Linked DNA regions of Homo sapiens: regions 2 and 3 are each linked to region 1. The links come from fine-mapping of genetic effects on gene expression. A gene starts in region 1. Each other region holds a variant in brackets. All regions are shown on one strand. Distances are between the middles of the regions. Region 1 holds the start of TMEM41B (transmembrane protein 41B). Region 2 overlaps TMEM41B (transmembrane protein 41B). Region 3 overlaps TMEM41B (transmembrane protein 41B).

Evidence for each region.
Region 2: its variant is fine-mapped to the expression of TMEM41B in whole blood (INTERVAL, PIP 0.97).
Region 3: its variant is fine-mapped to the expression of TMEM41B in whole blood (INTERVAL, PIP 0.99).

Annotation. Positions count from the first base shown.
Region 1 is chr11:9,309,780-9,317,964 of GRCh38, forward strand. TMEM41B (transmembrane protein 41B) reads right to left here and starts at 4,814. Exons shown (of 7, transcript NM_015012.4): 1 at 4,542-4,814. The coding sequence starts at 4,662. It also overlaps the pseudogene PRR13P2. RefSeq lists enhancers at 4,005-4,522, 4,523-5,038 and a silencer at 4,804-5,153.
Region 2 is chr11:9,286,372-9,294,556 of GRCh38, forward strand. TMEM41B (transmembrane protein 41B) reads right to left here. Exons shown (of 7, transcript NM_015012.4): 4 at 2,071-2,164; 5 at 1,331-1,435; 6 at 84-222. Among named protein-coding and RNA genes, the nearest start is that of TRL-CAA5-1, 15 kb to the left of the region's middle. The variant G/A (reference allele first, on the strand shown) is at 4,878.
Region 3 is chr11:9,276,169-9,284,353 of GRCh38, forward strand. It overlaps TMEM41B (transmembrane protein 41B), which reads right to left. Exons shown (of 7, transcript NM_015012.4): 7 at 4,486-7,425. The coding sequence ends at 7,256. Among named protein-coding and RNA genes, the nearest start is that of TRL-CAA5-1, 5.0 kb to the left of the region's middle. The variant A/G (reference allele first, on the strand shown) is at 4,848.

The DNA of each region.
Region 1 (8,185 bases):
GGCGTGGTGGTGGGTGCCTGTAGTCCCAGCTACTTGGGAGGCTGAGGCAGGAGAATGGCGTGAACCCGGGAAGGGGAGGTTGCAAGTGAGCCAAGATCGCACCACTGCACTCCAGCCTGGGTGACAGAGCAAGACTCCATCTCAAAAAAAAAAACAAAAGAACAAAAAAAAATATTGTTTTCTAGAAGCAATAAAATCAACTTTGAGACAGTGTTTTTCAATCTTTTTTGATTGTGTTCCAAGTAATGTATTATTATTATTATTATTTTTTTTTGAGATGGAGTCTCACTCTATCACCCAGACTGGAGTGCAGTGGCGCTATCTTGGCTCACTGCAAACTCCACCTCCTGGGTTCAAGTGATTCTCCTGCCTCAGCCTCCCAAGTAGCTGGGATTACAGGTGTGCACCACCATGCCCAGCTAATTTTTGTATTTTTAGTAGAGACAGGGCTTCTTCATGTTAGTCAGGCTGGTCTTGAACTCCTGACCTCATGTTCCGCCCGCCTCGGCCTCCCAAAGTGCTGGGATTACAGGCATGAGCCACCATGTCAGCCTAAGTAATGTACATGACCCGGTATACACAAAATCTATATAACTCAAGGAAAGATTAAACAAAAAAAAACCAGCATTTAATCCCAAAGCACTGATATTTTCTCTTCTATTCCATTTTTTTTAAAAAAATGCTTATTATTGATTATCCATCAAATTGATTTCACACCCCTCACAAGGGTCATGACTTATATATTGAAAAACATAGTCCAGCTCTCTTAAGTTAAAATGGAGAACTTGCTAGTAAATACATAGGTCGGGGCAAACACCACCAAAAAAGTTATGTACTCTAGTCCAGTCACCTTCAAACCGATTAGGTTAAGAGCCCTTTTTTTTTTTTTTTTTTTTTTTTAACCAGGAGAAATAACTTTATTTGGACTGAGAGCTGGAGAACAAGAATAGGACCTGAGATAGCATACTGGGCTAAGGAGGAGAGGTAAGGTTCCAAAATGGCAGTCAAAGCTCATCGACCAAACAGACTCTACTTCCCAGCAACCTTGCAGTTAGTGCAACCAACAAAAGGCCTGCTGGGGAATGTATTTTCCACTAAATTCCCCAAGTATGCCAACATTACAAAAAAGATAGAGGTTTTTCATCATAATTAAATTTCCACAATCCTCCCCAATCATGAGTATTATAAGCAGAAGTAAAAAATCACATTTTACAGATCTCAAACTTGTCTTCAACATTTAGTTCATCATCTTCAAAAAACAGCTCCCCTGCTAAACTCATTAGCTATATGATCTATCCAAGCAACAACAAGATGGCCAGGCCATGCCAATTCTCTTCCCATTTTCCCTAGCCACTCAGGGCTCAACAGCAGGGTGAAGCTCAGGCGGGGGTAGGGTGTGGGGAGCACAAGGGCTACTTTCCCCCAATACAACATGGCATCTGAAGCTTGATAGGAGAGCAGAACTGGTGAGACTTGAGGGAAGGACCCAGGGCCTGTATTCAGTCAGAATCACTGCTGGAAGAGGAGGAGGAATGCTTGCTATGCTTGTGCATCTTTTTATGAGCTTTCTTCATTTTCTTCTGTATCTTCTTGCCCACTATCACTGCTGGTCCAACCATGCCAGGAGCCAAGGGACTCACAGGAGGCATTCCAGGAGCAGACGGTGGGTATGGAGGAGGGTAGGGACCCGAGGATTGGCATCCTGGATACCCTGGCTGTGGCACAGGATGAGGGGGCCAACCTGGGGGGAAAGCTGAATTGCCTTGCGGAGCTCCTGGGGGAGGAGGACAGGGGCCTGGGGGAAAGGGTGGGTTGATAGGTGGTGAGTGGGCAGGATTGGAACCTCCAGGGCACCCAATGTTGGGTGGATATGGATTTGGCCCTGGCTGCCTGGCACTGGGATTCCACATGTTTAGGTGTGTCCTCCAGCCTTTCCACTGCTGCCTGGGCTTGATGCATTCTCAAGAGCTTCTTAACTAGTTTCACCTCCTGTCTGCTCTCTCATCTTCATCATGCAAAAATTAGACTTTCCGTGTTACCTCTGCCTTACTCAAGTAGTCAAAGTGGTCCACAGTCTACTAGGCTTAGCTCTGAGACTAGAGGCCAGAGTAATGGCAAGGAATCCACTAAATGTACCAAACATTGCAGATAGCATGTAAAACAGTTCAAACATACATATGATGATAACTACTTATTTGTCAAAGTTATATATGTGTCACTTAATAGAATACAAATTCATTTCCAAGTATCATGGAATTTACAGGAACATTCTGACACATCCTGAACAGGCCAACCTCATCGCCTACTACCACCCAACAGAAACCCTCTGCTCCTGACAAATTAATCTCCCTACCCACACACATAAAAGTTTCACACTAACCTTCAACCCTACTACTCTCTTTCTCCTAGCCTGGAATACCCTTCCCTTCTCTTTACTTATCCAAACCTTACTTATCTGGCAAAGCACAATGGCTCATGCCTGTAATTCCAGCATTTGGGGAGGCCAAGGCAGGAAGACGCTTGAGCCCAGGACTTCAAGACACCCTGGCCCCTTCTCTACAAAAAACAAATAATTAGCTGAGCATGGTGGCACACACCTGTAGTCAGCTATTTGAGGGGGCTGAGGTGGGAAGATCGCATGAGCCCAGGTAGCTGAGGCTGCAGCAAGCTATGATCATGCCACTGCACTCCAGCATAGGTGACACAGCGAGGCCTTGTCTCAAGTCACTAAAAACAGGCCTTACTTCATCATGAAGTGAAGGCACGCCTTCACATCTCTTCCCTGTCTTCCTATAGATTTGTGATCTATAGATGTCATGGGACAGCATCATAAGAATAATTGTAGGCCAGGCGTGGTGGCTCACGCCTGTAATCCCAGCACTTTGGGAGGCCGAGGCGGGCGGATCAACAGGTCAGGAGATCGAGACCATCCTGGCTAACAAGGTGAAACCCCATCTCTACTAAAAATACAAAAATTAGCCCGGCGTGGTGGTGGGCGCCTGTAGTCCCAGCTACTCGGGAGGCTGAGGCAGGAGAATGGCGTGAACCCAGGAGGCGGAGCTTGCAGTGAGCCAAGATTGCGCCACTGCACTCCAGCCTGGGTGACAGACCGAGACTCCGTCTCAAAAAAAAAAAAAAAAAAAAGAATAATTGTGTTGAATGTTTTGTTGTAATGATAAAATAAGATTAAAAAGTAAGAGCACTTTGGAAGTTTCAAGGTTTTATTTTTTGAATAGCTTTAGGTAAAAATCATGAATACAACTGGCTGCTACCTCAAATGAGATGTCAATTTTTAGGGATGCCCTATCTGGAACACTTTTTCAGGAAACCCAGACCTTGGAATATTGTCACCCTCAGTAGTAGAGTCTTCAAAACAATCTTTCTTTTATTCAGAGCTGATTTATACATTAACAACGATTCATTTCTCAGTTTTTGAAATTATATGAAGTCACCTGGATCCAGTGTATATAAGCTGGAAAAATACCCAAAAACATAAGGCTGACAGAGCCAAATTAGACTGTTGGAGACATTTTAAATTATTTGAAAATACATTAACATTTTCTACTACATACTCTTAGAAGTTCTCCTAGCCATCACTGGTGGTGGAACACACCTATGTGAGCTACAGACAAACTTGTTAGGATCACTTTAAGTTTATGAGCTTTAAAATCATTTAAAGAACGATTCCAGGCCAACACGGAATCAAAGTATTTAGTTTCTACGTACAGTTTTTTCCTTAAAACAATATTTAAAGCCGTGAGATTCTGCAATTATAGAGGCAGTAGGAATAAAGAGAAAACAAAAACCAAAAATAAAGCCGTGAGAAATGTCAGGATGATGTAGTGGGGAAATAAACTTTAGAATGAGTGACCTTAGCTGTAACTAAGTAATTGCTAATATTTATTTAGCCCCCACTTCATATCCAAGCATTGCTCTAAATCTTTTACGTGAATTATTTCGTTTAACCCACGCACCACCTATTAAGTAGATATTATTATTATCCCCATTTCACAGTTCAGACACTGAGCTTTTTTTGAAAGTTACCAAGTCCAAGGTTCCAAGTAAACAGTAGGGCAGGGACTCAAGCCCAGGTGTACTGCCACCTGGAAGTATTAAGTCCTCGCTCCTAACTACTACTTCACTGATCTGGCTTTATGACTTTATAAGTCATATACCCACACTGGGCCTCAGTTTCTTCATCTGTAAAAACAACGCAGCGAATGCCACAGTACAGCTCCTTCCAGCTCTGCCTAGCGTCGTTATCATCAACCTTACAATCTACCTGAGCGTCAACAAGCCAGTGTCATCCCTTCTTTTAAATGAATTCTACTCAAACAGCATTTACAACGCACCTACTCGGCGTCCGGCCTTGTGCTGCGCGAGCGCCCAAGCCCAACTCCCCCACGGTCTCTGCTCCCGCCGCGGCGCCAGCAGGCCCCCCTCTTTCCCCGCGACTCTCCGAGAATAGCGGGGGTCCTTTTCCCCACCCGACACACAGAAGCCTCGGGCCACCCCCAGCTCTGCTCCCCGGGCCCACTCACCCTTCTGGTGGTCTCTGCTGCCAGGCGCCGCGAGACCCCGCGTCCCCGCTGCCCCGTCCCCCACGGGGGTCGTGTGGTGAGCGCCCAACTGCGATCGTTCGGCGACTCTGCCTTTCGCCATGGCTGCTGCAAGGTGAAGGGAGCGGTGCGGTGCCGCGCCCCCTAAACAACAAAACTCTGTTGCAGGCTCCTTACTACGCCGAAGCGCCACGGCTAGAGCCACTTCCGGCGCGACCTCCTCACCCGAGACGACCTCAGCCCAGCGAGTACTGCAACCTCCTGCAAACACCCGCAGCGCCCACCACAGGCTAAACCCCGCCCCGTGCCGCCCCCGAGCCTCGCGTGCTCGCGCCGGCCCAGTAACCGCGAGACAAGTCAGGGTCCTGGACCGCCCCCTTCAGTGCCCCGCCCCGGCCCGCCCGCGGGAAAGAGGTGGCCGCCGGGCGCTGGGGCGAGAGCATGCGCAGTCGCGGCACTCGAGTCACCCGGCTGCGACTCGCTGGCCCTGGCGTCTAAAGCGTAGCCTTAATTACCCGGAAGTGCGGTCCCAGGGACTTCAAACCTTTTGTCCAGGCCGCCGGAGGTGCCTGTGATTAGTCGGCATTTCGCGGCTGAGGCTGATTCAGCCCATTACATCAATTCCGCAGCTGCTGTCTTCAATTTGGAGGCGCCAGAGAGTGCTTGATCTAAAAGATGGTGGGAAATACAAAGGTTGAGCAAAACCTACCTGAATTTCAGGAAACTAAGGCTCAGAGAGGGCTACGTACAACCTGTGAAGATCACAGGATGGCAAAAATGGGCTTAGAATCCAGGTTGTCCTGTTCCCAAAGCTAACGGTTTTGCATTAGCTGCTGCCCCTTACTACTAAACCCAAGTCAGCTCTACATTTAGCTTATCCCTAAGCTAAGCGGAAACATGCCTTTTCCACAGGTAACTTTTTCTGCTTCTACCCCTCAGAGCACATTCAGCTTACTCACCGTGGTTACCTCTTGAAAGCAACTTAGAGGCCGGTCGCGGTGGCTCAAGCCTGTAATCCCAACACTTTGGGAGGCCAAGGCGGGCGGATCATTTGAGACCAGGAGTGTGAGGCCAGACTGGCCAAAATGGTGAGATGAGACCCCGTCTCTGCTAAAAATACAAAAATGAGCTGGACATGATGGCTTGTAATCCCAGCTACTCGAGAGTGTGAGTCAGGAGAATCGCTTGAACCCCGGAGGCTGAGGTTGCGGTGAGAAATTGCACCGCTGCACTCCAGCATAGACCACAAAGCAAGACTCCGTCCCAAAAAAAAAAAAAAAAAATCCTGATTGTTTCTATTCAGTAATTACATTTGTAGGAAATTATTCCATGAAAATAAACATAAATAATTCCTCTGTATTAGTATAACAGTGAAAAACTAAAAGCAATATAAAAATCCAACACTAAATAAAAATGGTTAAGTAAATTATGGGAAACCCATTCAATTGAACTGTTTTATGTACACATCCTTTGCCTACTTCTGGCTCCCATTTTATTTCCTTCATAGTCATTAAAAGCAATTAATTCTGTGAACTATTTGTTTACTTGTTTATTGTCTGCCTCCACCTTTAGAATATAAGCTTTAAGGCAGGGGCTTTGTCTTTTTGTTTTTTGTTTTTTTAAGTGATGGGAATCTCACTATATTGTCCAGGCTGGATCTGAACTTCTGGACTCAAGGGATCCTCAAGCATCAGCCCTCTGAGTAGCTGGGACTACAGGCTCCATGCTATGGCTCCCAGCTGGGCTTTGTCTTTTTGATCACCATTGTATCCCCGGTAGCTGACAGAGTGCCAATACCTAAGTGGCCATTCAATGAATTTGTTGAATAATTTTTTTTTTTGAGATGGTGCCCAGCCGAATAAATTTTCAATCTTAGGAAATTATATTTATGGGCCAGGTGCCATGGCTTACACCTGTAATTTCAGCACTTTGGGAGACCAAGGTGGGCGGATCACCTTGAGGTCGGGAGTTCAAGTCAAAAAAAAAAAAAAGAAAACATTTTATATATTTTACTATGCAAACATTAAAAATTGAAGTACAACAAAAACTAAAAACAAACACTGAGAAGTATTTGACACATAAGAATTACTACAAATCAGTAAGGAAAGCACAACTCAACAGAAAAATGGGCAAAGAATATGAATTATCAACACACAGAAGAAAAAATTAAATGTGCTTAAGACATCTGAGTGCGCAGTGGGAAAGCCAACTCCAAAACTTAGGAAATTCCAAAAAATTAGGAAAAGATGAACAACCTCAGTGCAGTGTGATAAGAGTGACTGAGGGGTGCGCAGATTGCAATAGCAGAAGAGAGGAATATCTAAATTACAGTGGGGCTGTAAAGTCTCCCAGGAAGCAGGATTAAAACTGATTTTTAGAGGATGAATAGGAATTAACAAAGTTGAAAGCAGAGAAAATAGCTTTTGCAAAGGCTAGAAGCTACTGCTTATATTAGAAAAAAAGCTTCAAGCAAAGGGTGGGAGAATGGAAAGAAATGCTACGAAAGATATGAGACCAGGACCTTATCACAAACTGCTAAAAGTTTGAACTTAATCCTCAAAGATATTTAACCAGAGAGGGACTTAGTAAGATTTGTATTTTTGGCCGGGCACATTGGCTCACCCCTGTAATCCCAGCACTTTGGGAGGCTGAGATGGTTGGATCACCTGAGGTCAGGAGTTCAAGACCAGTTTGAAAACCCGTCTCTACTAAAAGTACAAAAAATTAGCTGGGTGTGGCCGGGTGTGGTGGCTCACGCCTGTAATCCCAGCACTTTGGGAGGCCGAGGTGGGCGGATCACGAGGTGGGGAGATCAAGACCATCCTGGCTAATATGGTGAAACCCCGTCTCTACTAAAAATACAAAGAATTATCCGGGCGTGGTGGCAGGCGCCTGTAATCCCAGCTACTCAGGAGGCTGAGGCAGGAGAATGGTGTGAACCCAGGAGGCAGAGCTTGCACTGAGCCGAGATCGCGACACTGCACTCCAGCCTGGGTGACAGAGCAGGACTCCATCTCAAAAAAAAAAAAAAAAAAAAAAAAAAAAAAAAAAAAGCTGGGCGTGGCAGCGGGCGCCTGTAATCCCAGCTACCCGGGAGGCTGAGGTAGGAGAATCGCTTGAACCAGGGAGGTAGAGGTTCCAGTGAGCTGGGATCGTGCCATTGCACTCCAGCCAGGGCAACAAGTGTGAAACTCCGTCTCAAAAAAAAGATTTGAATTTTCAAAGCTTATTCTGACCGCCTTATGGAAGTGTGCCAAATCAACAGCAGAAAGAGAAGTTAGGAGATTACTGCAATAATCCTGGCCTGACCTAGCATAGTGTACTGGAGACAAAAAGAAGATACCAGATATAAGATTATGTATGAGAAGAACTATCTCTAAACTTTTATTACTTTAATTACATGAATATATACATAGTCATTCCAGACAAAATTTTTTTTTTTTTTGAGATGGAGTTTCACTCTTATTGCCACGCTGGAGTGCAATGGCATGATCTTGGCTCGCGGAAACCTCCGCCTCCCAGTTCAAGCGATTTTCCTGCCTCAGCCTCCCAAGTAGCTGGGATTACAGACATGTGCTACCACGCCCGGCTAATTTTGTATTTTTAGTAGAGGGGGGTTTCTCCAT
Region 2 (8,185 bases), 23 kb before region 1:
AGCATGCATGTAATCTAGCCCAGCTGGACACTGTTAGATATGTACACAGTGAGCTCATACACAGCAAGAACCAGAGGGCTTACCTAGAAAAGTACCAATAAAAAAAACTTTCAATGGCACGTTTATCACAGGAGATGTGATATTAATAAACCAATTAGGCAGAAATGGTGTTATTCTCAAAAATATAATGTAGTTAATGAGATGTTCTCTATGACGTTCAACCTGTCATAAGAAAGAAAAGAATTAGCATCAGATGAGGACAACTTCAAAATAAGTTGCTTAATATAAACACCTTATTTCAAATTCTCATTCCTGATACTTCAGAGTATACCCAATAGAAATGATCAGGCTGGCGAGGTGGTTCATGCCTGTAATCCCAGCACTTTGGGAGGCTGAGGCAGGCGGATCACCTGAGGTCAGGAGTTCGAGAACAGCCTGGCTAACATGGTGAAACCCGTTTCTACTAAAAATACAAAAAATTAGCCGGGCATGGTGGCATGTGCCTGAAATCCTAGCTACTTGGGAGGCTGAGGCAGGAGAATCGCTTGAACCCGGGAGGCAGAGGTTGCAATGAGCCAAGATCACGCCACTGCACTTCAGCTTGGGCAACAAGAGCGAAACTCTGACTCAAAAAAGAAAAGAAATCATCAAAAAAGGCCAGTGGTGACTCATGCCTATAATCCCAGCACTTTGGGAGGTTGAGGCAGGTGGGTCACCTGAGGTCTGGAGTTCGAGACCAGCCTGGCCAACATGGTAAAACCCTGTCTCTACTAAAAATACAAAAAATTAGCCAGGCGTGGTGGCATGTACCTATAATCCCAGCTACTTGGGAGGCTGAGGCAGGCAGGAGAAATGCTTGAACCGAGGAGGCAGAGGTTGCAGTGAGCCGAGGTCATGCCACTGCACTCCAGCCTGGGTGACAGAGTAAGACTCCGTCTCAAAAAAAGAAAAGAAAAAAATGCACTGGGAGTTGGCTGATACAAGTGTTTCCATAACAGATGCACACAATACTGCATTAACATAAAACAGATAGGTATCTAATTATGTGGATGCCTTTATATTCACACTGACTTCTCTGCTGATTAAATTTACTAAGATAAAGAATTAAAATTACCATCACAGGTCTGAAACATTTGTATTTGAAATTATTAACATTCATATTTGCCTACCACCCATTTTTATTTGGTCAGAAGATAATTCTTATTACTTGAGTTAACTTAGGAATTAATTTATGTTGGGTTAATACATGTAGTTAATTCATGTAGGGACTAAACACAGACCTTCCAATTAACAAAGAGTTACATCAAATAATTTAAAAATACATGTTTACCTGCTGTGACCATTTTACTGCTTTCTCTGTTAGGTATTTGTATACAACTGGTCTCCCAACTAAATAGGAAAGCATATAACAGAAAGAGGCACCAAGTCCAGAACACTGGAAAACAAAAGAAGCCATAAGCGTTTTGTATTTTTCCGTCTTACTCACATTGATTTATTCACCTGAGTAAAAAGCTCAATTAATTTACTTCTTTCAGAGGTGGGGAGGGTACTCTGCATGACATCTCTTGTGCAGAGATGATCTAGTACTTTCTCAGACCAAAATGTACCTCAAATGAGATCAGCTAAAACAAACTGGCACTTGTGATTACACCTAGTGACTATATCCAAATAATTAATGCTAGGCTTTAGCCTAAGAATAAAATTTCAGGAGCCAATTTCCACCTCCCCCCGACCCTACCCCCGACCCCCCCAGTTCCTAAGCTTGAAAACACCACCTCTGGCTCTGGGACTTAACTCATTGTGCTCACCAACACTCCTTGGACTGTCGCAGTTACAAAATCCAATAGGAAAGAAAAGCTAAAACATAGCTTATAAATGCAACTAAGTCTATAATTGGTCTGTTCTGGGGGAAAAACAAATTATAACACCTCCTTGTGGAGGGACTTTAACATTAACTCCTCTTCAATTAATGAGTTTATGCTTACATAGACTAGTAGGGTTAAAGTATCATCATCATCCTCATCATTCTATTGTTTTTTCAGTCTCCCAATTTTATTTTTTCATACTTACCAAACAAACAAGAAATAAGGCTAGTGGAAAGGGATAAAGAAACCCTGAGAGTATACTGAGAAATATAGAGCCTGGAATAGCAAATGTTTGCAAGCTGGTAACTTTTAAGTTAAGGATTAGAATATAATTAAGTAGAATTTTAAAAGACAAATGTAACATTTCAGGAAAAAAGTATAAATACAAAAATTATCATACAATGAGATTATATCCAAAGGTCTAGCCTCTAAGTTGACCATTTACTAAACAGTATCATAAATACTAGTAAGTGTGTGCTACTAAAAGGTTTCCAAGACAAAAAACCGTATGTTCTAGATAGAGAGGAACCGGGCACTTTGGGGGAGGAACAAAAGAAAAAAGAAAAGGTCTTCCGTAATCTTTTAGTGCTTCTCTAATACATTTTATTTTACTCCCAAATGTTTTCAGGGAAATCATGTACATACAATTATTTCTAATTTAACTATGAAGGTTTACCTAAATTCACTACTCATTTTAAAGGAATAGGAACTACAAGAGAATAAAAGAAAATAAGAAAAATAAGAATAGAAATTACAAAATATAGTAAAAGTCACAAATCTTATTTGAGAAGGGGTCTTGCTTTGTCACCCAGGCTGGAACGCAGTGGCGCACTCATGGCTCACTGCAGCCTCAAATGCCCAAGCTCAAGCAATTCTCCCACTTCAGCCTTGCAAGTAGTTGGGATCACGGACGTGTGTCACCACACCAATTTTTATTATTTGTAGAGATGAGGTCTGGCTGAGTTGCCCAGGCTAGTCTTGAACTCCTGGGCTCAAACGATCCTCCCACAATGGACTCCCAAAGTGTTGAGGTTACAGATATGAGCGACTACACCCGGGCCACAAATCTTGTTTTTAAAATAGATTTTTTTTTTTTTTTACTTTCCTGTCGTTCCCAGTTTGGATCTGAACCTTTTTCCCCTCTAATATGATTTACTCACAAGTCAAAGTGAATTCCCTCAACATCTCTCCATCTATCCTCACTCATTAACTATTCCTTTTTCTCTAGTTCCCATTTTACTCATGTTCTCATTTCAATCTCCTCCTCCTTCCTCCTGGGTTTTTTCACCTTCAACTCTGTTCTCTTTCACAGGATGCCTCCTCTACAAAACTACTCAGTTGTCTATAACTTAAAAAACAACCTCAACCAGGGTATCCTATCCAGCTACCGCTCATCTTCACTTCCTCAGAGGAGATTCTCTCCTCGTTCCCTGTGACCTGCTTTACTATTCCACTATGCTATTGAAACTTCCTCACAGCCAATAATAACTTTTTCTCAATAGTCACCTTTCAGTGATCCCTGCATAGGATTAGACTTCATCCTGCATGAAACATGGCTTCAGTGAACTGTACTTTTTCTTCTACATTACAGGTAATTTCTTCTCTAGATTTTTCTCTTTGCCCTCAACTCTTGAAATTTCTCTAACATTCTGTTGGCCACACAATCCCTTTTCTTTGATAAATTTGGCAATTTCCATGGCTTCAAGTATCAACCACATATAGTACTAAAAACTCGAAATTCTCTTTGGTTCATCAGCCTCAAATTTTCCACCTGTCTCCTACATGTCTCTGTCAAAAACAAAACACACACACACACACACACACAAACACACACACTTTTTGGGTTAAGATTGTACTATATGGACCGGGTGGGGTGGCTCATGCCTGTAATCCCAGCACTTAGGGAGTCTGAGGCAGGCGGATCACAAAGTCAGGAGATCGAGACCATCCTGGCCAACATGGTGAAACCGTCTCTACTAAAATACAAAAAACTAGCCGGGCGTGGTGGTGGGCACCTGTAGTCCCAGCTACTCGGGAAGCCAAGGCAGGGGAATCGCTTGAACCCAGGAAGCAGGAGATTGCAGTGAGCCGAGATCTCGCCACTGCAAGCCAGCCTGGCAACAGAGCAAGACTCCATCTCAAAAACAAAACAAAACAAAACATCATATTATGGATAGTTTCACACATATGTAAATGTAGAAATACTCAATGTAAATGACAAGTTGATGGGTACAGCAAACCAACGTGGCACACATATACGTATGTAACAAACCTGCACGCTGTGCACATGTACCCCAGAACTTAAAGTATAATAATAAAAAAAAAAAAGAAAGAAAAGAAAGCAAGACTCCAAAGGATGAAAGGAGATAAATGGAAATTTTCCCTTGAGGAAATTGAGAGAAGCAGAAATAAATGAGGACAAGTTCCCAGGAAGTGTTTTGTTGTTTTTGTTGTTTAACGCAACTGTATTTTTTCCTTTCCCAAAATTTGGTGCAATTCCTACTTCTCTGAAAAGGAAACCTAAAATTACAGCTGAAATTGGGGAAAAAAAAACAAAGTAGAGAAACTAGTGTTATGATGCCCTATATTAACATATTTCAGGCTGGGCACCGTGGCTCCCGCCTGTAATCCCAATACTTTAGGCAGCTGAGGGTGGATCACTTGAGACTAGGAGTTGAAGAACAGCCTGGCCAACACGATGAAACCCTGTCTTTAATAAAAATACAAAAATTGGCCAGTCACAGTGGCTCATGCCTGTAATGCCAGGTACTCAGGAGGCTGGGAAACGAGAATCTCTTGAACCCAGAGGGCAGACGTTGTAGTGAGCCGAGATCATGCCACTGACCTCTGGCCTGGGAAATAGAGTGAGACTCTGTCTCAAAAAAAATAAAAATAAAAATAAGGCTGGGCGCGGTGGCTCATACCTGTAAATCCCAACACTTTGGGAGGCCAAGGCAGGTGGATCATGAGGTCAGGAGTTCAAAGAATACAAAAAATTAGCCGGGCGCAGTG[G/A]CAGGTGCCTGTAATCTCAGCTACTTGGCAAGCTGAAGCAGGAGAATTGCTTGAACTCGGGCAGCGGAGGTTGCAGTGGGCCGAGATCGCGTCGCTACACTCCAGCCTGGGAAACAGAGTGAGACTCCCATCTCAAAAAAATTATAATAATAATAAAAATAAATTTTTTTTTGAGACTGAGTCTCGCTCTGTCGCCAGGCTGGAGTGCAGTGGCATGATCTTGGCTCACTGCAACCCCTGCCTCCCAGGTTCAAGCGATTCTCCTGCCTCAGCCTCCCGAGTAGCTTGGATTACAAGCGTGTGCCATCGCGCCCAGCTAATTTTTTTTATTTTTAGTACAGACAGGTTTCACCATGTTGGCCAGGATAGTCTCCATCTCCCGATCTCGTGATCCACCCCGCTTGGCCTCCCAAAGTGCTGGGATTACAGGTGTGGCCACCACGCCCGGCCAATTCCTTTTTTTTTCCTTTCGTTTTTGTGGTAGGAGTCTCGCTCTGTCGTCCAGGCTGGAGGGCAGTGGCGTGATCTCAGCTCACTGCATTCTCCGCATCCCAGGTTCAAGCAATTCTCTGCCTCAGCCTCCCAAGTAGTTGGAATCACAGACGCCTGCCACCATAACTGGCTAATTTTTGTATTTTTAGTAGAGACAGGGTTTCACCATCTTGGTCAGGTTGGTCTTGAACTCCAGACCTCGTGATCCACCTGCCTCGGCCTCCCAAAGTACTGGAATTATAGGTGTTAGCCACCGTGCCTGGCCTCCTTTTCTTTTTAACATAAATATGATACCATTGTCAGACTTCAAGAAATTAACTATAATTCCTTATTGTCCTAAAGACTAGTCTGATCAGAATCTAGAAGTCCACACAAAGTATTTGCTCAAAGGATCACTTAAGCATAGGGTCTTTATTTTTTCTTTCTTTCAATTTACTGAAGAAACCAGATCATTTGTAGAATTTACCATTTATTGAATTTTGCCTATTGGATACTTAGGGTAGTTTATGTTCTATCCTTTATCTTATACTAGTAGTCAAAACTATGCTTCCTTTTAAATGGGAATGTGACTTGAGCTTAACTTTGTTTAGATTTCTCTTCTCTTACACTGAAAAATCTTGGTTCTTGATAACACCAACATAGTTGCCTATTTGTGCTTTATATACTATGAAACATAAAGTAAATGTATAAAATATATACTATGCATTAGTATTAATAATCTAAAACGTTTCCACATATTTAAATATTTTACAACATTATTACTACTAACAATATGATGACTAAAAACAGTTTTAAGATTTTTGGCTAGGCCTGGTGACTCACACCTGTAATCCCAGCACCTTGGGAGGCTGAGGTGGGAGGATCACTTGAGCCCAAGAGTTCCAGTTCGAGACCAGCCTGGGCAACATGATGAAATCCCATCGCTACAAAAAAATACATGAAGAGACGGGATTTCTTCATGTTGGTCAGGCTGGTCTTGAACTCCCAAACTCAGGTGATCAGCCTGCCTCGGTCTCCCAAAGTGCTGGGATTATAGGTGTGAGCCACCACACCCGGCCCTGATAATACTATTCTTAATTTTTGAGGAACTGCCATACTATTTTCCATAGTAGCTGCATCATTTTGCATTCCCACCAACAGTGCTCAAGAGTTCCAATTTCTCCACATCCTTGCCAACACTTGTTATTTTCATGATAGCCATCCTAATGAGTGTGAGGTTGCTTTTGATTCTTAAGATTCCTGCTATTCTCTTTTTTCATTTTGATTTTGTAATTATGTAAAACATTTACTTGGTTCTCAAGTCAAACCTACGCTAAGAAAAGTTTCAGTCCTACCATTTTATCTCTCTCCCTACAGGTAAACATTTTTACTGGTTTATTTATTTGAGATACAGTCTCACTGTCACCTAGGCTGGAGTGCAGAGGCTAAATGCTTCGCTGTAGCCTCAACTTCCCTGGGCTCAGGTGATCTTCCCACCTCAGCCTCCCAAGTAGCTAGGACTACAGGCATGTACCAAGACATCCAGCTAATTTTTGTATTTCTCGTAGAAACTGGGTCTAGCTACATTGCCCAAGCCAGTCTCGAACCACTGGCCTCACGCAATCCTCCTGCTGAAGCCTCCCAAAGTGCTGGGATTACAGGAATGAGCCACTACACCCGGCCAATTAGTTTTTTAAGAAAAATATAACAAGATACTTATGTATATGAGTGTACTCATATTATCCCCTTCTTAGATAAAACACAGCATATTTGTGTACTATTTTGCCCTTTGTTCTTTCACTTATCTGTATATTGTGAGTTAATACCTCAACAACATATGGATACTTCTGATTCTTTTTATTTTTGTTATTTTTATTTTTTGGGGATGGAATCTTGCTGTCACCAAGGCTGGAGTGCAGTGGCACGATCTCAGCTCACTGCAACCTCCACCTCCTGGGTTCAGGTGATCCTCCTGCCTCAGCCTCCTGAGTAGTTGGGATTACAGGCATGCAATCACCACGCCCAGCTAATTTTTGTATTTTTAGTAAAGATGGCGTTTCACTATGTTGGCCAGGCTGGTCTGAACCCCTGACCTCACGTGATTCACCCGCCTCGGGCTCCCAAAGTGCTGGTGTTGCAGGCATGAGCCACCATACCTGGCTACTTCTGATTCTTTTTAAATAGCTATATAATATCCCAGTGTTGTCAGGCGTGGCGGCTCATGACTGAAATCCCAGCACTTTGGGAGGCTGAGGAGCTCAGGAGTTCAACACCAGCCCAGACAACATAGCAAAACCTGGCATCTACAAATAAATCCCAAATTTAACTGGGTGTGCCTGTGGTTCCAGCTACTCGGGAGGCTGAGGTGGGAGGATCACTTGAGCCCAGGAGGCTGAGGCTGCAGTGAGCCATGATCATGCCACTGCACTCCAGCCTGGGTGACAGGGGGAGAACCTGTCTCAAAAAAAAAAAAAAAAAAAAAAAAAAAAAAAAAGCCGGGCACAGTGGCTCTCACCTGTAATCCCAGCACTTTGGGAGGCTGAGATGGGCAGATCACCTGAGGTCAGGGGTTCCAGACGACCCTGGCCAACATGGTGAAACTCCGTCTCTACTGAAAATACAAAAATTAACCAAGTATGGCGGCAGGCGCCTGCAATCCCAGCTACTTGGGAGGCTGAGACTGGAGAATCGCTTGAACCTAGGAGGTGGAGGTTGCAGTGACCAGAGATTGTGCCTCCAGCCTGTGTAACAAGAGCAAAACTCCATCTCAAAAAAAAAAAAAAAAAGTTGGTTTAAAAAGGATGATTACTTTTACAACATCAAGAAGTAAATTACGT
Region 3 (8,185 bases), 34 kb before region 1:
TGGCCTAATTTTTAAATTTTTAGTGGAGACGGGGTTTTGCTATGTTGGTCAGGCTGGTCTGTAACTTTGGGCCTCTAGCAATCTGCTTGCCTTGACCTCCCAAAGCGCTGGAATTACAGGTGTGAGCCACTGCTCCTGGTCCCAGATCTTGTAATTAATACAGATATGTGGACCATAAAAGGTAATATAATTCCCGTGAAATGTAAAATACATAGATTTTTTTTTTGGTAAGCCTATACAAACTTCACCTAGAAAAAACACCACTCCCATGTAGTAGGTTTTGACAAACGTTGGAACTGCCAAAAGCCCCCACCAAAACAACCTACCTGGGCTGCCATGGGCAAGACAATAAAGTGAGAAGCAACTCAACTGACCACCTTTGAGGCTGGGACCCTGGGGTGATATAGCTGGGCCACTCCTTGGCCTGCTGGCTCAACTCCTGCCTGCCACCCTCAAGGTTTGCTAAACTCAAGTTGTGAGTTATCAGCATATGTAACCTGGCCCCAGGGGCCCTGCAGCTGACAGGCAGAGCTGCTGCTCATATTTGTGTACATGGTACCATGAGACACCATCATTGTACTCATTATTAATTTATATGGTTGACGACAGTTTTCCAACAGATGGCAGTAAAATATCTTAAGAAAGAGGCACCTGGCCAGGCGCAGTGGTGCGTGCCTGTAGTCCCAGCACTTTGGAAGGCCTAGCTGTGAGGATTGCTTCAGCCCAGAATTTCAAGACCAGCCTTGGCAATGCAGTGAGACCCAGCACCCCCACTGCCATCTCTACAAAGAAAAAAGAAAGGGGCATCTTCTTTTTCTTTTCTTGAGATGGAGTCTCGTTCTGTCTCCCAGGCCAGAGTACAGTGGTGCGATCTTGGCTCACTGCAACCTCGGCCTGTCGGGCTCAAGCGATTCTCTCACCTCAGCCTCCCAAGTAGCTGGGATTACAGGAGCGCTCCACCATACCCTGGTATTATTATTATTATTATTTGTATTTTTAGTAGAAATGGAGTTTCACCATGTTGCCCAGGGTGGTTTTGAACTCCTGAGCTCAGGCAATCCGCCTTGGCCTCCCAAAGTGCTGAGATTGCAGGCATGAGCCACCGTGCCCAGCGACATCCTTTTCTACTTCATCCAAAACCACCATATGAGCTAACAGTAGGGCTATGTTGCCCAGCGTGCTGCTAACAAATAGCAGAACACAAGACTCTCAGAACCAGAAAGTCAACATTCATTGTGCTGTCTCACCACATGGCTTCCTCCTGTGCCTCTACTTCATTCTTTTCTTGTCTTCCATCCTCATTTATCAAATCCAACATTTCTCTACTAAACAGAAAAGCTACTGGGCGCCGTGGCTCATGCCTGTAATGCCAGAACTTTGGGAGGCCGAGGCGGGTGGATCACCTGAGGTCAGGAGTTCCAGACCAGCCTGACCGACATAGTGAAACTCTGTCTCTACTAAAAACACAAAATTAGCTGGGCGCGGTGGCTCATGCCTGTAATCCCAGCACTTTGGGAGGCCGAGTTGGGGTGGATCACGAGGTCAGGAGTTCAAGACCAGTCTGGCCAACATGGGGAAACCCTGTCTCTACCAAAAATACAAAATTAGCTGGGCGCAATGGCGGGCACCTGTAATCCCAGCTACTCAGGAGGCTGAGGCAGGAGAATTGGTTGAACCCAGGAGGCAGAGGTTGCAGTGAGCCGAGATCACGCCACTGCACTCCAGACTAGATGACAAAGCAAGACTCTGTCTCAAAAAAATAAAAAAGTTAATTTACTTAAATGTGTGTGAAAGTATATTGTAAGATGTAAAACAAGCTATACAAAGCAAGGTATGCTTAATTTAATATTCTGAATTGGGGGCAGCTTATTAAACTTTCATTAATTTCAGAGAATCTTATCATGTCTGAGCTGTAAGGATCCTGGACCTTAGACCTCTTTATTCTAGATGAGAAAAATGAGGATGAGAGCTTAAGCAATATCCTGCCTCAAGTCACCCAGACTAAGTTTGTCCCAGATAAAGAAAAATAATAATGAGAATACTGAAAACTGCAATGAGATGTATCTTCTAAACATCTTAACTATGACCACCGAATGATTATCAGGAAAGCTTCAGCCCTTTTGATTATACACATTTTCAAAAAGCCAGAGAACTTTAAAAAGATTCCTTCATAAACAACTCATTGTATGTACTAGAAATATTTACTTGGCCAGGCGCGGTGGCTCACGCCTGTAATCCCAGCACTTTGGGAGGCTGAGGCGGGCGGATCACCTGAGGTCCGGAGTTCGTGACCAGCCTCAACATGGAGAAACCCCGTCTCTACTATAAAAATACAAAATTAGCCAGGCGTGGTGGTGCATGCCTGTAATCCCAGCTACTCGGGAGGCTGAGGCAGGAGAATTGCTTGAACCTGGGAGGCGGAGGTTGCGGTGAGCCGAGATCACGCCATTGCACTCCAGCCTGGGCAATGAGAGCGAAACTCCGTCTCAAAAAAAAAAAAAAAAGGAAATATTTACTTACCTCAACTATTTATTTAGCGACAAGGTCTCACACTGTTGCCCAGGCTGGAGTGCAGTGGTGCTCACTGCAAACTCCGCCTCCTGGTTTCAAGCAATTCTCCTGCCTCAGCCTCCTGAGTAGTTGGGACTACAGGCGTGAGCCACCACGTCCAGCTAATTTTTGTTATTTTTAGTAGAGACAGGGTTTCACCATGTTGGCCAGGCTGGTCTCAAACTCCTGACCTCAGGTAATCTGCCCATCTTGGCCTCCAAAAGTGCTGGGATTACAGTCCTGAGCCACTGTGCCCGGCCTTACCTAAACAATTTAAATTGCTTTAGAATCTTCAAAAGCCGGCTGGGCTTGGTGGCTCACGCCTGTAATCCCAACACTTTGGGAGGCCTAGGAGGGTGAATCACCTGAGGTCGGGAGTTCAGTCTGACCAACGTGGAGAAACCCCATTTCTATTAAAAATACAAAATTAGCTGAGTGTGGTGGGTGGCACGTGCCTGTAATCCCAACTACTCCGGAGGCTGAGGCAGGAGAATCGCTTGAACCTGGGAGGCAGAGGTTGCAGTGAGCCAAGATCGCACCGTTGCACTCCAGCCTGGGCAACGAAAGCGAAACTCTGTCTCCAAAAAAAAAAAAAAAAACCTCAAAAGCCAACAATTACAAGTTTTAAATATTTTAGCCAGGCACCGTGGCTCACGCCTGTAATCCCAGGACTTTGAGAGGCCGAGGCGGGCGGATCACGAAATCAGGAGATCGAGACGATCCTGGCTAACACGATGAAACCCCGTCTCTACTAAAAGTGCGAAAAACCAGCCGGGCAAGGTGGCAGGCGCGAGTCCCAGCTCCTCGGGAGGCTGAGGCAGGAGAATGGCGTGAACCCGGGAGGCGGAGTCTGCAATAAGCCGAGATGGCGCCACTGCACTCCAGCCTGGGCGACAGAGAGACACTCCACCTCAAAAAAACAATTTTTAAATATTTTGTTGTTTTTTTTTTTTTGATACAGTCTCGTACTCTCGCCCAGGCTGGAGTGCAGTGGCGCCATCTCGGCTCACTACAAGCTCCGCCTCCCGGGTTCATGCCATTCTCCTGCCTCAGCCTCCCTAGTAGCTGGGACTACAGGCGGCCGCCACCACACCGGGCTAATTTTTTGTATTTTTAGTAGAGACGGGGTTTCACCATGTTAGCCAGGATGGTCTCAATCTCCTGACCTTGTCTCCACCCGCCTCGGCCTCCCAAAGTGCTGGGATTACAGCCGTGAGCCACCGCGCCTGGCCTGTTTTGAGATGGAGTCTCACTTTGTCACCCAGGCTGTAGTACACTGGTGTGATGTTGGCTCACTACAACCTCTGCCTCCCGCGTTCAAGCGACTCTCCTGCCTCAGCCTCCCAAGTAGCTGGGATTACAGGTGCACACCACCACACCCAACTAATTTTTTATTTTTAGTAGAGACGGGGTTTCTCCATGTTGGCCAGGCTGGTCTCGAACTCCTGACCTCAGGTGATCCACCCACCTTGGCCTCTGGAAGTGCTAGGATTACAGGTGTGAGCTACCGTGCCCGGCCATTTCATTGTTCTTAGTGGTGAAAATGTACATCGAAATTTAAGAATATACTTTTATTCAACGAAGAGTTTGTTTTTAGTTTTTTGAGACAGAGTCTGGCTCTGTTGCCCAGGCTGGAATGCAGTGGCACAATTTCATCTCATGGCAACCTCCACCTTCTGGGTTCAAGCAATTCTTCTGCCTCAGCCTCCCAAGTAGCTAGGACTATAGGCGTGTGCCACCACACCTGGCTAATTTTTCATATGTTTAGTAGAGACGGGGTTTCACTGTGATGGCCAGGCTGGTCTTGAACTCCTGACTGCAGGTGATCCACCTGCTTCGACCTTCCAAAGTGCTGGGATTACAGGCGTGAGCCACCTTGCTCGGCCAGAGTTTTTTAATGTAAGTACTTCCATGAAATAAATCCCAAATGTGACATTTAGGTTTCTCCAATACAATTTATTATTATTACATTTTAGCTTGCATTTACTAAGTGTCATGGAAATATTATACTCAAAATAACAGAGCTCCAGAGAAAGACAGTTAACTAAGAAAGAACAGTTTCACTTTCTTAGCTTGTCAACTCCTAGTTAGCCTGCTTGCCTCCGCACCACAGATGCTTGTCTTCTTGTGGTTGTTACCACAAGCCAAAGCTTGAATTTACATGGGCATCAGGCCAAGTCTGTAAATCCGTGAAGACAGGCCATCAACTGCATTGAGGGTACAGCCTTGCTGAAGGGTCCTTTCTTGACAGTCAATGATGATGAATCTGGAAAAACTGTCTATTCTCTTAGGAGAAG[A/G]AAATATACCCCACCTAAAGTCGCAGCTACCATTAACAAAAAAAAAAATTAGCAAAGGGAAAGAATCAATGGTAAGGACAGTAAATATACTCTGAGAATAGAGTAAGTACAATTTACACACGCTGGAGTAAATAGTGAAGCTTCTACTGAGTTCTACTGAGTCTAAGCTCTTTTATTTTTAAAATTCTGATAAAAATTTACTCAATTACATTTTATACATTAATATTTAGTGAATTTGTCCAAAAAGGCTATGTTTAATTTATGTGTAAAAATAACAAAAGATGTATCAGTCAGTCTCTGGGCAATAAGAAAGGAAGAAAGCCTTGCTAGAAATAATAAATAATCTCACGCAAAAGGCCAGGTGACATAAGAATACTACAATAATCAATATGTTTTCTTTGTATTTACAATAAAATCCATCTGTTAACACTGTGATAGAAAAAATAATCAGTCCACATCATGTAATAAAAACAGGCTTTGAGGATGATTATACCTCTTATAATAAAAACATACAAGGATTTCTCACAGCTAAAGTACTTTTCAACTTTGACAACTAATAACAGTCATGGGTGAAGGTAAAACTGACAGAGTACTTTAGATCAGCTATGTCCTACAGTCAAGGAATCAAGGGCATTACCCATTTACCAAGCAGCAAAAAGCACTTTCATTTTTCCAGAACTATTTAAATACAGTAGTTGCCATGTGATCAGTTAATTTTACTTTGTGAGTTAGATAAAGTAAAGACTAAATTGGGAAACTGCAATAAGTAATCAAAAGTAGCTCCAAACAACAAAGCCATCAATAGAAACAAAAGGCATTTTTCTAGGTGTATCATGCATAAAAAGAATAATTACATAATATTATTAAATATATTCCTTAATGACCAGATTAATAAATGAGGTAAAATTTAGTCATTGGAACAAATAAACTATATTTAATCACTTGTGTTTTGCTGTCACTGTTTAAAATAATTAACTTAATGTCTAAAAACTACATACTCTTGAATGTTTGCTTTTTAGAGCCCCTTGTGGGATATTAAAGAGCCATAACAAATTATCTGAATATAAATTATCAATACCAGGCTGGGCACAGTGGCTCATGCCTGTAATCCCAGCACTTTGGGAGGTGGAAGTGGGCATATAGCCTGAGGTCAGGAGTTCAAGACCAGCCCGGCCAACATGGTGAAACCCCGTCTCTACTAAAAACACAAAAATTAGCTGGGCACGGTGGCACACACCTGTAATCCCAGCTACTCAGGAGGCTGGGCCAGGAGAATCGCTTGAACCCAGGAGGCGGAGTTTGCAGTGAGCCGAGATCACACCACGCACTCCACTCCAGCCTGGGCAACAGCAAGACTCCGTCTCAAAAAAAAAAAAAATTATCAATACCAAATATGATACAGTTATGTAATACCCATTTTGCATATGCACAGTGGAAATACTGTAAAAACTACAAGATGAAAGAAAACCGACTGGCCAGAACTTTAAATTTCAGACTAATCCATGATAAAAATCTAGATGATAAAAAACAAAAATAAAATTAACAAAATAGATAACTTGATATCCTTTCCATATTCAGTCGTCTACTAACATGCCATCTCCAAACAAATCCATTACCTCAAAAGAGGAAGAAAATGGGCCAGGCGCGGTGGCTCACGCCTGTAATCCCAGCACTTTGGGAGGCCAAGGCGGGCAGATCACGAGGTCAGGAGATCGAGACCATCCTGGCTAACACGGTGAAACCCCGTCTCTACTAAAAATACAAAAAAATTAGCTGGGCATGGTGGCGGGCGCCTGTAGTCCCAGCTACTCAGGAGGCTGAGACAGGAGAATGGCGTGAACCCAGGAGGTGGAGCTTGCAGTGAGTGGAGATCGCGCCACTGCACTCCAGCCTGGGCGGCAGAGCTAGACTCCGTCTCAAAACAGAAAAAAAAAAAAAAAAAAAAAGAGGAAGAAAATGTAAATCTCTTTTTAAGTTTTCCAGTTTATGCTCTGAAAAAAGCCTAACATTAACAAAACCTGCAACACTACTTTAAAAAATCTAGAATTTAAAAATATCTATTTTAGTTATTAAAGATAAAAAATATTCAATTAAATTGAATGAATTAGCTGGATCAACAATTTCCTACCACACTACTATTATCTACAGCTACCCTTGGTATAATAATTTATAAGATGTCTAAGATGTCTACCTTAACTATTGATAGCACTTTTCACAGTATACCAATTTCCATTTTTACTTTCTTCTCCCCTTGTCACTTAAATGTATTACTTTAACTATCTGATAGGAAATTTTATTTTACAAATTCCTTGTTTAATTACTGAAGAGGTGATTTTAAAACATAAATGGATGCACCTGTTAATCCTGAGATGGTGATGACAGCAAAACTAAAAATCAGATGATTATTTTTACTCAAATTTCTGCTTTAGTTTTTTTTGGAAGATGGCTGGCAGAATAGAAAGAACAGCCAAGATCATCAGAATAAATATTGAGTTCCAGGAAACAGCTTCTCCTGCTGTTGTAAGTTGATACAGTGTTGTTCCTGCCTTAATGGCTACAAAAGAAGGAGGTGCGACACCTGAAATAAAATATAAAAAGATACAGTAAAAACCACCGCAATTGTTTTTAAAAAATTAAAATGTTCTGTGTGCATAAAGTTTCTTAAAACAACACAGCTATTTCCATTTTGGAAAAAAAATTAAGAATTTAAAGCTCAAGTTTATTTCCATATAAAGAATTCAATCTTTCCTAATCACCTCTTAAGGATAATGATTTTTTTTTTTTTTGAGACGGAGTTTCGCTCTTGTTGCCCCCGCTGGAACACGATGGCGCGATCTTGGCTCACTGCAACCTCCGCCTCCCGGGTTCAAACAATTCTCCTGCCTCAGCCTCCCGAGTAGCTGGGATTACAGGCATGTGCCACCACACCCGGCTAATTTTGTATTTTCAGTAGAGATGGGGTTTCTCCATGTTGGTCAGAATGGTCTCAAACTCCCGACCTCAGATGATCCGCCCACCTCAGCCTCCCAAAGTGCTGGGATTACAGGCATGAGCCCCTGCACCTGGCCAGAATAATGAATTTTAAAAACGCAAGAAAAGGGCCCAGAAAATAGTTTTACATTTATCAAAAATGCTTTTGTTTTCTCCCCCCGAGAGTTTGACTCTATCGCACAGGCTTGAGTGCAGTGGTGCAATCATCACTCATTGCAGCCTCAGTCTCTCGAGGCTCAGGTGATTGTCCCACCTCAGCTTTCTGAGCAGCTGGGACTACAGGCGTGTACCACCACACCCAGGCAAAATTTTTGAATTTTTTGTCAAGAGAGGGGGTTTTGCCATAT